Regions from separate parts of the Homo sapiens genome. Here region 1 is linked to region 2. The links come from fine-mapping of genetic effects on gene expression. A gene starts in region 2. The other region holds a variant in brackets. All regions are shown on one strand. Distances are between the middles of the regions. Region 1 overlaps KLHL42 (kelch like family member 42). Region 2 holds the start of KLHL42 (kelch like family member 42).

Region 1 (8,336 bases), 22 kb after region 2:
ATTTAGGTCCCTTGACATATCATTAGCACCTTAAGTGAGAGGTTTTCTTTTTCTTATCAGTGTCCTTGACAAGCATTCATATTAACATATTCATTCTCTCTTCTCCATCACCCATACCCACACATACATCTAGTATGTTTAGGGTTCTGTGTTCAGATATTTTGTTTGCACACTACTTTTTAGGAAACTTATAATGATGGAGCCCTACAGTGAATCCTTACCAGTGTTCAGTCCTCCCCAAAACTTGCATAAAAATATTCTTAGCTATTTTTCCAGCCTTTTTTGCAGTTACAAATGCTGGATAAATAGACTGATAAAACCTCTTATTTTATTTATGTGGCAGGTTGCATATTTATGTGGACACATAGGTTGCACTGCTAGGCATTCTGTATTGTTTTAAAGAGGATATATTATTTAGAAAAATGGACATATGAATATTATTAAAAATTGAGTCTTAAATTTAAATGGGAAGGGAAGAAAACACCAAATAAGAAAAAAATTTGCCTTTAAGAGTTACTTTTGTTGAATGTATTTGACTTAGTTCTTATTTTAAGGCTAAAAAAACTTTGTCATATTTAAGTCGGCAGCTTTCTAATTTAATCTTAGCTTTGTAATTCATGTTTTGCTTTTGTGGACTAAGGTAAGGACAGCATTTAAATATTTGTGCTGGAGTGAGGGGAAGAAGCTGTTACAGAAGTGGAATGGTTTCTGGTGGTATTTCTGAAGTTAGGTAAAGTGCTTTACTTGCCTTGGTTGTTAATTGAAATAGAATTCAGCTCAAGCAGTTGTTTTCAGTGAGTGAGTTAACAATAAAAGCTTCTGCCAATCATAGATCAACATTCCTCAAAAATACATACACTCATACTTATGGAAATTTTATTTTGATTGAAAACACTCTGAAATTATCTGATATTTTGTAATGGCATCAGTTAAACTGTGAGCTGGATTCCATCTTTCTGCAGTAACAGCGGGCAGAACCATTTCAGTTAGCATGTGCCTCACTTTAAGAAAGTCCTGTAGGGGAAAAAAAAAACTGTCAGAGCGAATTCATGCATTCAACAAACACTTATGAGTGCCTGGAGTATGCCGTCCACTGTGCAGATGTAGGACAGGGGCTAATCACTTAGAGTTCTTCAGTTTATTAGAGGAGTGACTACAGGTTTTCTTTACAACCATGGCCTCTAGTATACTTAAAATAAGCGTCCAGTTATAAAAAGCCTATTTGCACAACTTTTTGGGAATACTTCTATTAACTAAAATGAGGTAAGCCATTATTTTGGACATAGAAACAGATCTTTGTATCTTGTCACCAAATAATCTTACCTCTAGTCTACTTACAACTTTGTAAGGGTTTCTAAGCTATGCCCATTTATTCCCAAATATTAAGCCCTTAAAAAAATAAAACCTCTGAACCAAAATCTTCCCAGGAATAGTACTTAATAGATTTTAATGTTAATTTATATTCATTGTAGAATTGAATTTCCAGTGACCTGTAATTTCATTACATATATTTTAAAATCTATTTATTTTAGATGGTGTTAACTTTTCGTTGCTGAAGAGCTTAACTTTTTAAAGGCTTTGTCCTATACATTTAGAAGATGAGTCAGTTGAATTAGTACTGGACAAACAGTTGGAGATTAGTTTGCAAATAAGCATATCATATCAAATACAATATTCCAGCCAACCAGTTAATTCTCTTCCTGGTTACATTCATTGGGTCTATTTGCCTAATGTTGACAATTAGATTCTTGGACCAAGTGAGGGTGTACTCTGATCCACAAAGCTCTTTTATAAACCAGGTTTGAGGTTGTGTGTGTGTGTGGGGGTGTGTGTGTGTGTGTGTGTGTATGTTTGCATATTATAGCTCTCTTTAAGACAGACATCTAAAAAGATTTTGGTTATTCTGGGCTGCCAGCAGTACGTGGGAAAGGTGGAATGTGCAATAGGAACAGATCTGTGCATTTTGTGACATCGTCCTTCCTGCTGTGCACATCAGCTGTGATGACATTTTGAGGGTAGTTTTAATTTAGCTCGGTTCTCTTGTTGGTGCCAGTATTACATTGAAGACTACCTATGATAGAGGCAATGTTGCTTTGAAAATCTCCCTTCAGGCGGAGGTTGCAGTGAGCCGAGATTGTGCCATTGCACTCCAGCCTGGGCGACAGTGCAAGACTCTGTCTCCAAAAAAAAAAAAAGAAAAAAGAAAATCCCCCTTCATCCCCCAGGACTGTCCTTTACTCTTTGATAGTATCCCTCTATTTTCTTCCCAATTCTCTAAATGCTTTATCATTTTTTCCTGAGATGCTTCTGAGGGATGCTGACCTCCCACTATGGGGAAAAGGGTTGCTTGGAGGACCTGGGGTGGCAGCCCCCCGACCAGAAGCACCCTATTTTATAGATAGCAGTCTGAATGGTAGAGAGTCCTGTGTGTGGGTTGTTAGAAGGTTGGTTCTTCCTGTTATTCTCTCTGGCTTTCCTTTCAACCCACTTATTTTCAGAGGCCTCTCCCCTTAGCATCCTTTAAAAGGTTTTCTGATGAATGTGTGAAAGAGTTGATTATTTCAACAGTATTGGTTAAGTCACAACGACGAAGTGCTGAGAAGGTTATGGGTACCAGGAAGAAACAAACAGAAGTCTTAAGATTAGAATGAGAACCAAAGAGAATTTAACCCTGCCATTTTTTTTTTTTTAACACCAAGATCCTAAGTAATTCCAAATGCCTTAGATATCAATGAAAGCTACACACCATTGAGATGGGCAAAATTCTTTCTCTACAAAGGGAGTAATCAAGTAAATACCTGTTCTCTTTCAATGGACTGTTGCCTATTGAGCATTGTGGATGATGTGTTTTCAGATTTCCAGGTGAAGTTCTGACCCTACCTGTTTGGCCAAAGACGTAAATTGAGAGGAAAGGCCTTGGTCTTCCTGATCAACCAGCATTTAACGAACAGTGGCTTAATGCAGATCACTCAAGAGGCAGCATAGCAATGTAAAAGGAATATAAGTAGGTGTTGGATGCCTTTTTCCTAGACCAGGAATGGGGAATATATAACACCTGTGCCACCGCTCTTTTAAGGAGGCATTATGAATGAGTGCAGCATTCCTGTCCTCTGTGCCAGGATTTGGTCTTAGAATCCATGTCAGATTGGTGCTTCCAGACATCTATTCCCAGTCCATCAGAGTGAAATGAAGGCTATTTGCCATCCCTGCCTTAGACAGAGGAGTGAAAGAATTAAGTGGGTAGACACCAACCAAAATGACTTTGAAAGCAGTGAGCTGATTGAGCTCCAGTTCTGTGGTTACCAGAAATACTGAGTGTCTGTCATGTGCAAGACAATGCTAAGAACAGAATACAGACATAAATAAGTCACGGCCCATGACCTTGAAGAGCTTACGGCCTTATAAAGAGGTTCACTGTAATTGTCTTCACCAGGGCGTCCTTCTCAAAGATGCCCACTTTTGTCTGGCACATTGGGGCTCGGTGGTCTGGTGGTCCCTTCGGTCTTGGCCCTGTCCGTCCTTTGTTTTTGTGATTTACTAACAATCATCACGAACCAGTTTTGTTTTTCTTTTAAATTTGAACATCACATCTTGTGTTTTAGTTTTTTGCTCTATGATTTTTTTCTCACTGCTTTTCAGTCTTCTCTGTACTTCATTTTTGTGAAAAAGTGAAAATCACATATAATCTTTATTTAAAAATGCTCACCAAGCACTGCAGACTTTGGAGTTAGGGATTCAGCAGCTTGTTCCAGTGAAAAGGAGGAGTGAAGCTGGGGAAGTTAGTATCTAAGAGGGGCAAGCTGATTGCATGTGCATTTATACCTATGCCTTTAAAACATTCCCATAAAAAGTATTAATAAAGAAATTTCCATTCCACACTAGTACTGATGAAAAGGTGGTTGATTTTGCCTTGTGATAATTATCAAAGGATAGTTTTTCATCCTTAGATTTTATTCACATGAGAGATTTTTTTTATTTTCTCTGTTGACTTAGGAACACATCATAAATTCACACCAACTGACACGTTGCTGACGTCTGTACTTGACATAACCATTTTTATTCATACAGGAAGCATTAAATATAAAAGATGGTCAGTTTTGAAGAGCAAAGGGTGCTGAAATGACTTGTACGGTTGGCTGGTGCTTTCTCAAATGGATTGCCATAGTTCATTACTAGTAAAGAAAAGGAAAATGTGATTTACGTTGTCATTTTTCCTATTAAAAAAAACCCTTAAGAATGGGGCACTTGAGCTGTCCCTGCAATGTTTTCATATCTAGTAGTCATTTTAGGGAAAGTGATAATCTGTAGAATGAATAGTTATGTTTTGATATGACTGATACTTTCTTTGTTAAAAGGTTGTATTAAGTCTTCAATTTCAAGT[C/G]TAGCTTAAAAGTGTAAACATTATGTGATTCATTTGAATACAAGAATGCCTATGAAATACCCACTATAACAGCATTCCTTTTGTGTTTAGAACTATAGAAGAAAATGTCTTCAAATAAAGTAGTTTTCAGTCACTTTTTGTTATCTAAGTTCTATGTATCAGTTACGTATGCAGGGCTGTGCCAGGACTGGGAGGAAATGGGTGAAGTGACTTGGGAGCCTGAGGTGGGAGGATTGCTTGGGGCCAGGAATTTGAGACCAGCCTGGGCAACAGTGAAATCCTGTCTCTACAAAAAATAGAAATAAAAGAAATTAGCCGATACAGTGGTGCATGCCTCTAGTCCCAGCTACTTGGGAGGCTGAGGCAGGAGGATTGCTTGGGCCCAGGAGTTTGGGGCTGCAGTGAGATCTGATTGCACCACTGCACTCCAGCCTGGGCAGACAGTGCAAGACCCCAACTCAAGAAAAATGAAATAAATGGACAACCATTTTCTACACACTCAGGACACACTGATGGAGGAGAAGGAGGATGGCTGACCTAGCAGAGCGACACCCAAATCTAACTGAGCACTTTTTTTTTTCCCAGGAATTATTCTAAGCATTTTTTATTTAAATTATTTAATCCTCACATGAATCCCATGTGGTAAATACAAATATCCTCCGCTTTACAGTTGAGGAAACTGAGGCACTGTAGGTTACAAATTGCCACTTGAGAAAGAGGAGAAGGGAAAACTACATACAGTGGTCACTGGTTTAAAGGGTATCCTTTCTCTTGCTAGTGGAGGAGTGGGTTTCCGAGTGAGCCAGTCTGGGAGCCTCTGGTCCTGCTTTGCAGCAGCGCGTTCCATGGCTGACCTGCCTGGGGGTGAAGTGGCAGCCTCTTCCTGTGGGCATGGTTACAGGAGGTGTGTGGAGGGGCACCTGAACACTTCTGTTGAGGCCAGGGATCCTAGGCTCCTGTTTGTAGGCCATCAACATTTCCTTGGCAATAAAACTTTAAAAACCCATTTGAGGCTGGGCACGGTGGCTCACACCTATAATCCCAGCACTTTGGGAGGCTGAGGTGGAAGGATTGCTTGAGCCCAGGAGTTCAAGGACAGCCTGGGCAATACAATGAGACCCTGTCTCTATTAAAAAAATAAATAAATAAAAACTCAGATGCTGGTAAATCTGATCTCCGGCAACTCCATAGGATAAAGGCCCAGATTTAGAGGAGCCCAGTTTCTTTAACTTAGAGCCCATCTTTATGATGTCTGTCTCTTAGCCACAGGCTTCCTGCCCATGCCTCCACCTTCAGTTTGATGGCGTCAATCTCTCTCTTAGCTTTGGGATAATCTGAAACCATAGGGGTCTGCCGTTCCCAGACTACATCCCAGGGACTGCAGCATTAGTAGAAATGATTACCTCTGTGTGGCAGGAGGTGTTTGGGGAATAAAATACCCACCCTATTTCCTCTTCTTCTTCTTCCTCTTTTTCTCCTTCTCCTCCTTTTCCTCCTCCTCCTTCTCTATTTTTGGAGACAGGGTCTTGCTCTGTCACCCAGGCTGGAGTGCAGTGGCACGATCTCAGCTCACTGCATCCTCGGCCACCTGGGCTCAAGTGATCTTCCCACCTCAGCCTCCTGAGTAGCTGGGACCACAGGCATGTGCCACCACACCCAGCTAATTAAAAATTTTTTTAAAAAAAATTTTTATAGAGATGCGGTCCCGCTATGTTGCTTAGGTTGGTCTCAGAAAACGATTCTCCCACCTCGGCCTCCCAAAGTGCTGCGATTTACAGATGTGAACCACTGCGCCAGGGCCCCCACTCTATTAGTTTGCCTCCTCCGGGAGCCCGATCTTACTATATTTCTGGCTGTTCATGCCCCTTTAACTAAGGCAGAGAACCTGGCTCCTATAGTTCTGCCAGGCACATGTTTGATCCTCTGCAGTCTGCTGCCTGTAGGCAAAAGGGTGAAAGGCATGGACTCTAGAGCAAGACTTTGCTTCCTAATTCTGCTACTGTCTTTCTTTTTTCTTTCTTTTTTTTTCCCGAGACGGAGTCTTGCTCTGTTGCCCAGGCTGGGGTGCAGTGGTGCGATCTCAGTTCACTGCAACCTCCGCCTCCTGGGTTCAAGTGATTCTCCTGCCTCAGCCTTCCAAGTAGCTAGGATTACAGGCGTGTGCCACCACGCCCATCTAATTTTTGTATTTTTAGTAGAGATGGGGTTTCACCATGTTGGCCAGGCTGATCTCGAACTGGCTAGTCTGAAACTCCTGACCTCGTGATCCACCCGCCTTGGCCTCCCAAAGTGCTGGGATTACAGGCGTGAGCCACTGCGCCTGGCAATTCTGCTACTTTCTAGCTGTAGCTTTGGTTAGGCTACTTTGTCTCCCCAGGCCTCAGTTTCTTTATCTGTAAAGTAGGGATAACAATAGTATCCACCCTGTGAAACTGTTGCAAAAAATTGTATGAGAAAATTCATGTGATGTGTTCAGAATGGCATCTGGCACATAACACACAATGAATGTGAGCTGTTGTTATTATTACCAAAGCTGTTTCCTTTATACCTTCAAATGGGCCAGCTTGGCTGGAAGCTTATGCCTTTCCTAAAATATCTTAGCAAAGCCATTAAGACGTAGCTAACAAATTCCAGATCCTGGTACAAGTCTTTCACTTCTCCTAAAGGAGCCAACTTGAGTGGTCTGAGGCCCAAGAGACAGCAGCATAATTAGTTGTTTGCTTTCCACATAAGGTCAGGGATGAGAAGATTCTATCTACCCCATCCCTTCCCTTGCTTTAGCTGGCTCCATATTTCAGCTTTAGATATTTGCAACATCCCATCCTAAGTACCAAACGCTTTATTAAGACTTGTTTGAACCAGCCCAGGTAATGTGTCCATTTCTGAGGTAACCACTGTGGCCAGGGGCATGGAGGAGAATCTCCAGTTCAACCACGTGGAATGAAGTCATCTCAGATAATAGGGGTCTGCTTACTAGAAGAAAGGGGTGTTGACTCTTGACTTGCAAAAGGAACAGCTAGATAACCTGTTGGTCAAGCAAAGCCAAGTTTGTTATGCTTACTGTGGTCAGGGAGGACACCACCTTGAAAAAGAATTAGTAGTGCCTCAGAAGGGGAATGTCAGGTTTTGGGGCCTGGGCTGGGTGATTTTGAAGTAGGTCTCAACACTGGGCAGAGTTTCTGATACAAGAACTTTGGGCATAGGACTTTGTGGGCACAATGCAGTGAGAGTCCCAAAGCTAATCTTGGGAGCTTGTTTGGAGGTTCCAGCAGGGGAGCGCAGCTACTCATACACCCTTGACCCAAGACTGGTCCTCCTCTATTGGGGATGGTTGTCCTCTTCGACTGAGCGTGGAGTTTCGGGAGGGACGCACATGGAGCAGTGAGGGAGGAAGGGGTCACCCATCTAGCCAGCCAGATCAGTCGAATCAACCCTGGCGATCAGTGGGGTGAGAGTTGTCACAGGCAGATCACCCTCACATCCCCTAAGCTAGCCTTGATGGGGAAGCTGTTAGTCTTGGTAAGTGAGCTAGCTGGTTGGTTTACAGTGTTATGGAAGATAAGCCTTCTGAAAATACTTGTTCCTGGATACAGCTTCAGCTATCTCTCTCTCAGGGCACACATATTTGTCTCATAGAACAGTTCTTATGTGCTTGTCTTATTCCTCTTCTAGACTGTAGTTTCCTTGATGATAGAGTGTTTCATTAATCTTTTTATCACTCTATGTCAGGACATACACCAGAGCCATGTAACACAGCAGATTCTGGAAGTATTTGTTAAATTGGAAAGGTTTTGAAGCCTCCTTGGGTTTTCTGAAAATATATAGGTTTCTGGTTTATGTAGCCCTAAAATTTCCTTATAGGAAAAAAGTGTTTTCTTGAGGAACAACGGTTATTAGGAAAACAGTGTACTTTTCTCTTCTACCAACGTACATAATGCGTCACGCAGATGGGAGA
Region 2 (8,336 bases):
ACGCTTCTGTAAAACTGTTTTACAGATAGTACCACAAAACTGGTTTTTATTATTCAATGATCAGTCAATAACAGATCTATAAAATTATACCTCCAGTTATATAAAGCAATATTTTCAGGAAGACTAGGAATAATTTTAGGTCTTTTTAAAATAAAGGAGTTTATATTGCTCTGACTTTGCATTTCTAGCTTAACAGAAAACTTACTGCATAATTTATTAAAATGATTTGATCATTTAAGATGCTCCCAATCCTAAATAATGTTATTATCATATTGGGAGCCAAAAAAACTCACAAGATCAATGCCCAGTATTGTGAGACTAATACCCCAGACTCCCTGTCCAACCTCATCTTACCCTGATAATGTTACTGTGCTTGAATTGCCTTTCTAATGCACATCATTCTTTGAGCATGATTTTTTTGGTCTGTTTTAAAAAGGCAAGAAAATACCAGTCTGAGGCATATCTATGACGGCTGGGAAACAAAAGCATCCATTGGTGAAAGATTCAAGAGACAGAGGAGAGACTGAGAGCCTGTTCTTTGTGGCTGACCCACTGAATCTGGCATTGTTGCCGGTTGAGGCATAGAAAAATCGTAGGTCCAAGTCTCTTTGATACAGGGGACGCATCCCAGCAAAATTCCCCAGCCTGATGCTTAATACTGGATGTTACACTCTACCATCCCAAAGAAGCTGCTAAATGCTTGATCACTCACTCCACCTCCTGCTCCAAAGCTTATCGTGTCTCACTGCACCCTCATAGAGAATGGAAGTGTGAAGGGTTGATGTGAAAATGGAGTTTTATCAGTAACGATTTAAAGGCCAGGTGAAACAAGGTGAAGAGATGAATGTTTTTTATAGAATCCAAGAAAACAACTGAGTAAGTCATAGATCCATTTTTATTTCCTTCATTTTTTTCCAGGGAGGCCAGAATCTACTAGAACATTTTCTATGTCTTTTATTTTTTAGTTCCTTATTCCTAGCATTATTATAAAGAAAATAGGCCAGGCACAGTAGTGCTTTGAGAGACCAAGGCAGCAGGATCACTTGGGGTGGCAGGATCCCTTGGGGCCAGGAGTTTGAGGTCTGTCTTGGGCAAGGTAGCAAGACCCTATCTCTATGGAAAAAAAAAATGCATTTTTTTTTGCTGGGCATGGAGGCTCATGCCTGTAATCCCAGCACTTTGGGAGGCCGAGGTGGGTGGATCACGTGAGGTCGGGAGTTCCAGACCAGCCTGACCAACATGGTGAAACCCCGTCTCTACTAAAAATACAAAATTAGCCGGGTGTGGTGGCTCATGCCTGGAATCCCAGCTACTCCGGAGGCTGAGGCAGGAGAATCACTTGAACCCGGGAGGTGGAGGTTGCAGAAAGCTGAGATCGCAGCATTGCACTCCAGCCTGGGCAACAAGAGGGAAACTCTGTCTCAAAAAAAAAAAAAAATGCATTTTTTTTTCTAAAAAATAAAAAGATAAACCTCCTTTCCCAAGTAATAATAATAAACAAAGTAAAAGATGACAACAACACCTCTCTGTGAAGCAGATAAATTTCGTAGTAAGAACCACAAATGTAACCAAACTATGTTGAAAGGATCTCATGTTTCACCTTTGACTTTCTTTTAGTTCTCTGGTTTTTAACCCTTTCTCCTTCCTAAGGTAAAATGTTAGCATGGTAGGATGTATCTTCTTTAAATAGGGGAAATGTACTTATGAAGAAGATATTATTTAACAATCTGTCATTCAAGAAGAAAGCTGAAGCTTGTAATAATAAAAAAAAAAACCAAACACATATTCTCTCCAAGTTAAGGACTGTTTATCATAGGTGGTTCTCAAATCTTGGTTTGGGGTAAGTTTTCAAGGTTTTCTGTTTTTGTTTTGTAAGATAAGAGTGAACACACCCTCTGCTTCCTCCCAATCCTTCTCCCTTCTCCTACCCAAAGATAATCCAAACAATATATTTCTCCCCCCACCCCCTTCCTGGGATGAATTCATTAGCAAGACAAAAAGTCCTTCCTATTATTATTTGGGGTGGGCCTTCTAATTGCAATGTTCAGTGAGAGAACATAGGAAACAAGTGGTCTCTCTTTTCCGAGACGGCGTCTCGCTCTGTCGCCCAGGCTGGAGTGCAGTGGCGCGATCTCGGCTCACTGCAACCTCCGCCTCCCGGGTTCCAGCAATTCTCCTGCCTCAGCCTCCCGAGTAGCTGGGATCACAGGCGCGTGCCACCACGCCCGGCTAATTTTTGTATTTTTAGTAGAGACGGGGTTTCACCATGTTGGCCATGGTGCTCTCGAACTCCTGACCTCGTGATCTGCCCACCTGGGCTTCCCAAAGTCATGGGATTACAGGCGTGAGCCACCGCGCTCAGCCAAACCGCACGTGTGGTCTCTCTTAATAGTCCTCAGATGATGGGGGCAGGGTAGGTGGAGAAAGGGGGTGACAAGAAAAGCTACTTCTTGCAGACATTTATGAGCCAATTTTGTCAGATCTTTTGCGCCAGGATAACATTCCGTAATGGACTGGACTGAAGTAGAAAAGCAATGGCTCATAGAAAACATGGTTTAAAACCAGAAGCCACGTGATGTAACTTTATTTAGTCGGGCTGCGCTTTCATCTTTCTTTTAATAACTTAGGGAGAATAAGGGGCCCCAGTGGCAAATGCAAGCTCCCCTGCCTCCCAACCCGATTCCTCTGAGAACCTGCTGCCATCTGCCTGGACCTCCTGTAAGATGGCTCCTACGCGACCACGCTACCAGAGAATCAGCTCTACGTGCCACCAACATTGCCACCAACTGTCCATAGATCGCCTGCGTGCCTCAGCCCACTGACACTCGATGCCGGACTGGGCCAGAAGGACGACCCCATATTTGATGCCTTTTTGTCTCCCTGGACCAGAGACTCCATCCTTCCCTTTCCTCCCACGCTCATTTCTTTTTCTTTAGCCCGTGTAAAGCAGCGTGGGAGAGAAAACGAATTTCTTCTCCCTGGGGTACCCCGGAGCATCACTGCAGCCCCCAACAAGCGGCGGAGCCGGCGCGCCCCGGGCGGGCGGAGAGGCTGCGGGGACGCGCGCCCTCCGCCTCCCGCAGCTGCGCGTCCGCAGCCGAGGCGCCCGGGCCCGCAGCTTCCCGGGCCTCCCCGAGAGCCGGATCCAGCCGGCAGGTCAGGCCGGCGGCTGGGGTCCCGCGGGCGGAAGTGAGAAGGGCGGCGGGGGAGGAGGCTGCTGGCTGGGAGCTGGAATTCCCTTCCCGCCTGGCGCCGCCCGGGAGAGCCCGCGCGAGGACGCCCGCCGCGCTCCGCCGGCCCTTTTTTGGCGCTGAGGGAAAGGAGAAGGGCAGGGCCGCCGCCTCGCGGGAGCGGGCCCCGGGAGGAGGGGCCGCCGGAGAGGCCGGGCGAGCGCGGGCGGCCCTCACCTCGCCGCTCCTCCCGGGCCGCCATCCCTCGGCGCCCCGCCCGGAACCGGCGCGCGCGTAGGGGCTGGGAGGCCGGCGCGCAGATCTGGCGGTGAGCGCTGCCGCCCCGGGGCCCCCAGCCATGTCGGCCGAGGAGATGGTGCAGATCCGCCTGGAGGACCGCTGCTACCCGGTGAGCAAGAGGAAGCTCATCGAGCAGAGCGACTACTTCCGCGCCCTCTACCGCTCCGGCATGCGCGAGGCCCTGAGCCAGGAGGCCGGCGGCCCGGAGGTGCAGCAGCTGCGCGGCCTCAGCGCGCCGGGCCTGCGGCTGGTGCTGGACTTCATCAACGCCGGCGGGGCCCGCGAAGGCTGGCTCCTGGGCCCGCGCGGGGAAAAGGGCGGCGGGGTGGACGAGGACGAGGAGATGGATGAGGTGAGCCTGCTGTCCGAGCTGGTGGAGGCGGCCTCCTTCCTGCAGGTCACGTCCCTGCTGCAGCTGCTGCTGTCCCAGGTGCGGCTCAATAACTGCCTGGAGATGTACCGCCTGGCGCAGGTGTACGGGCTGCCCGACCTGCAGGAGGCCTGCCTGCGCTTCATGGTCGTCCACTTCCACGAGGTGCTGTGCAAGCCCCAGTTCCACCTCCTGGGGTCTCCTCCCCAAGCTCCAGGGGATGTCAGCCTGAAGCAGAGGCTGAGGGAGGCCCGGATGACTGGGACTCCTGTCCTCGTGGCCCTCGGGGACTTCCTGGGGGGACCCCTGGCCCCTCACCCCTACCAGGGGGAGCCCCCGTCCATGCTCAGGTACGAGGAGATGACTGAGCGTTGGTTCCCGCTGGCCAACAACCTTCCTCCCGACCTGGTCAATGTCAGGGGCTATGGGTCTGCCATCCTGGACAACTACCTCTTCATAGTGGGCGGGTACAGGATCACTAGCCAGGAGATCTCCGCTGCGCATTCCTACAACCCCAGCACCAACGAGTGGCTCCAGGTGGCCTCCATGAACCAGAAGAGGTAAGCACCCCGGCAGAGTGCTGCTGCCTTCTCATTCATTCACTTGTTCATTAGTTCATTACCCCAGTGTTTACTGAGCCAGTAAATAGGGGAGGGTGTGCTGTGGTGGAAATGACATCTTCAGGAATGTTGTTGGCCTTGGCGCTGGCAAAATTCCCAATGAACTAAGAAATTGCGAAGAGGACGTCCCCAGTGAGGTCAAGAAGTGGAGTGGTTTTTTGGCAGGTATTGTGCCTTTAGGTGAAACTGCTTTCTTTGCCTCTGTTCTTGTGAAAAAAGATGTTGTGGTTTCCTACAAGAATACTTTAAAAGAAAATTGCCCCTTAATTTTTAAAAAATTTGTCTTAGTTTTTAGGATTTGATCCTGATGATAATGATACACTGGACAGTAACCTGTAACACTGACTTTGGGGGATTTTTTTCTGATGTCAGTGACTGTGACAACAGAGTCTTCCACACTGTGATACCCATCATGATCAAGAGATAATCACTGGAAATGTATTAACGTTTGCAATAGGGGTTGCTTTTCTTATTTTTTATCCTCTCTTTTGCTTCCTTCCCTGGACAGCCATCGTCATGACCCACAGCTTGAGCCTGGAAGTGTTCAACTACAGAATTGGAATATTTTCATTTACGCAACCTTCTCCCCCTCCCATCCTGCAAATCTCTCCTGCCTCCAACAAGGGTGACTTGAAGAAAGGAAGAGGAGGAGCTTGAGGAGTGGGATGAGAGGGGAGAAGGGAAAGGAACCAGGGAAGGAATATCAAAACAAGAGCAAAGAGCATATACAGGAAGAGATGGTAGGAAATAAAGATGGTAGCGCCTAGGAGGCCTCAGCGTCATTCAGAAGCAGGGAAAAGAATCAATGTAACTCAAGAAAGGATGAAAATACCCTTTCTTCCCATCCACGTGTTTCCATCTCAATCCTCACAGGGTCCTGGTCCTGAAGTGTGGAGCAAGGAGTTGGGGAGCTCACAGCTGGGCAAAGAAAGTCTTAACAGTAACAGAGAATCCTTTATATATCTGTTTATTTGACTCGAGGGTCCTCCTCGGCCAGGGATTATTTGGGGGAAATAACTGGCTTTATTTCTCCTATAATATGAAATTCATTTTGAAAAGTATGCTTTTTCCCCTGATAATACATAGTTACAGAAAACTGGAAAATGGAAAAGAATGAAGAAGCAAAAAGATGATTATTCCTACCCGCTCTTCCTAGAGGCAGTAACCAGGTTGGCATATTTCCTGCCAGCCCATTTTTAATGCATTATTTACACCATTGAGATGATACCATATTTAAAATTTGGTATCAGAAGTGTTATTTTAAAACAAATTCTATGCACTGTAATTGAAACAACAAAGGAACATTGTGTGGCCATGGGTGGTGGTCTGATTAGGGGTGGGCGGCCCTGAGTTCTCTCACTCCTCTTGCATTCCTCTAGCTACACATCATTTGGTGCTCACCAGGCCATCCTTAGTGCCACAGTTCCTCACACTTCTTTCTTCCCTTCATACATCCTTGGTAGTCTTTGTCTTTTTTTCTAGGAAGGCCCTTTTCATCCCCTTAAAAAAAAAAAAAGCATTCAAGTAATGCATGAATGCATGATTCTTAGAAAAACTGCAAATTACACACAAAACTGTGGAGTAAAAAGAGTAAATGTCTGCCCTCAGGGTACAGAAAAAAAGTGTCAGTGTATCAACAGACTTTTGTTACCTTTAGATATTATAAATGTATAAACATTTATACTGTAAATTATATGTATACTTGTATAAATACAGTTAACCCTTAAACAATGTGGGGGCCAGGGACACCAAACCCTGCACAGTCAAAAATCCCCATATAACTTTTGACTCTCCCAAAAACTTAACTACTGAATAGCCTACTGTTTACCAGATGCCTTACCAATAACATAATCAATTAATACATTTTGTATATGTAGTATATACTTTATTCTAACAATAAAGTATGCTATAGAAAAGAAAATGTTATTAATAAACTAAGGAAGAGAAAATTAAGCGGAAGTGGATCATCCTTATCATCTTGACGCTGAGTAGGCTGAGGAGGAAAAGGAGGTAGAGGAAGGGTTGGTTTTGCAGTCTCGGGGTGGCAGAGGCAGAAGAAAATCTGAATGTAAGTGGACCCTCACAGTTCAAACCCGTGTTATTAAAGGATCAGCTGTATAAGTATATTGATAGTGGTTAACAATAGGGGAAAAGTGTTTATGTATATTAATGTGCACGGGGGTGTATCACCTTACACATTTTAAAAATTCTGAAATTGTCTAGGTTGTACTAATTATTATGGCACTTGATATTTCCATTTAACCATATCTGAGAGTTTTTTTTCTGTGTCAACAAATGTAGATCTACCTTATGCTTTTTTATTTTTTTATTTTTTTTGAGACGGAGTCTCGCTCTGTCGCCCAGGCTGGAGTGCAGTGGCGGGATCTCGGCTCACTGCAAGCTCCGCCTCCCGGGTTCACGCCATTCTCCTGCCTCAGCCTCCCGAGGAGCTGGGACTACAGGCGCCCGCTACCACACCCGGCTAATTTTTTTTTGTATTTTTAGTAGAGACGGGGTTTCACTGTGTTAGACAGGATGGTCTCGATCTCCTGACCTCGTGATCCGCCCGCCTCAGCCTCCCAAAGTGCTGGGATTACAGGCGTGAGCCACCGCGCCCGGCCTTACCTCACGCTTTTTAATGGCTGCGTGGCATTCCAGCCTATGGATGTACCATAATGTAATTAGCCCTTCCCTTATTTATGGACATTTAGGTCACTTCCATTTGCATTGGATGTTTCAATAAGCACTGCCATTGAACATCCTGGTAGATGCGTGCATGTATCTTAGTAGCCATATGTGAGTTAGTTTCATATGTCAAATTCGTGGAATCCCTGGATAGGTAGGGCAAAGTGTATGTGTTTTTTTTTTTTGTTTTTGTTTTTTTTTTTTGGGGACGGAGTCTCGTTCTGTTGCCCAGGCTGGAGTACAGTGACGCGATCTCGGCTCACTGCAAGCTCCGCCTCCCAGGTTACGCCATTCTCCTGCCTCAGTTTCCCGAGTAGCTGGGACTACAGGTGCCCGCCACCACGCCTGGCTAATTTTTTTTTTTTTTGTATTTTTAGTAGAGAAGGGGTTTCACCTTGTTAGCCAGCATGGTCTCGATCTCCTGACCTCGTGATCCGCCCACCTAGGCTTCCCAAAGTGCTGGGATTAAGTTGTGAGCCACCGCGCCCAGCTGTGTATGCATGTTTTAAATTTTGTTGAAGCTGGGTGCAATGGTTCACGCTTGTAGTCCCAGCTACTTGGGAGGCTTAGGCAGGAGGATCACTTGAGCCCAGGAACTGAAGGCTGCAGTGCACTCTCATCGGGCCCGTGAATAGCCATTGCACTCCAGCCTGAGCAACATAGTGAGACCTCATCTCTATAAACAGTTAAAAATAAATAAATAAATAGATTTTGGTTGCTCCCGCCAAATTGCCCATCAAAAAAATTGTTCTGATTTCCTCTTCCATCAAAAGTGTTTGTGCTTGCCAGTTCCCTATACTCTTGCCAAGATAGAATATTATCATCTTTTTTTCCCCAAACCTAATGGGCAAAAACACTAGTGTGATTTTTCCCAATTAGAAGAGAGATTATTCTTTTTATATGTTGGTTGGCCATTTGTATTTCTTTTGTAAATGGTCTTTGCCAGTTTCCTAAAAATTGGCTTATTTTCTTCACATTCATTTGAGAAGTTCTATGTGTGAATACAGATATTAATCTCTTGTCTGTTATGTAATGTCGTGCATGTTTTCCCATGCTGTTATTTTTTCTGCAGTGTTCAAAAATAAGATCCCAAAGTGACTGGGTAGGTGAAATTGTTGCATAGAGGGGTGGGTGGGAGTTATGATGAAGCTGAGAGCTATCGCCCCACCAAAAGAGGGCTCCACCTCTCAA

What was found. PIP is the estimated chance that this variant, and not a neighbour inherited with it, causes the effect.
Region 1: its variant is fine-mapped to the expression of KLHL42 in fibroblasts (GTEx, PIP 0.98).

Annotation. Positions count from the first base shown.
Region 1 is chr12:27,798,527-27,806,862 of GRCh38, forward strand. It overlaps KLHL42 (kelch like family member 42), which reads left to right. Exons shown (of 3, transcript NM_020782.2): 3 at 1-4,514. It also overlaps the pseudogene RN7SKP15. Among named protein-coding and RNA genes, the nearest start is that of MANSC4, 22 kb to the left of the region's middle. RefSeq lists an enhancer at 6,389-6,558. The variant C/G (reference allele first, on the strand shown) is at 4,382.
Region 2 is chr12:27,776,803-27,785,138 of GRCh38, forward strand. KLHL42 (kelch like family member 42) reads left to right here and starts at 3,431. Exons shown (of 3, transcript NM_020782.2): 1 at 3,431-4,400. The coding sequence starts at 3,529. It overlaps MANSC4 (MANSC domain containing 4), which reads right to left and starts at 3,434. Exons shown (of 4, transcript NM_001146221.5): 1 at 3,408-3,434. RefSeq lists silencers at 400-600, 3,033-3,252, 3,273-3,582 and an enhancer at 3,448-3,947.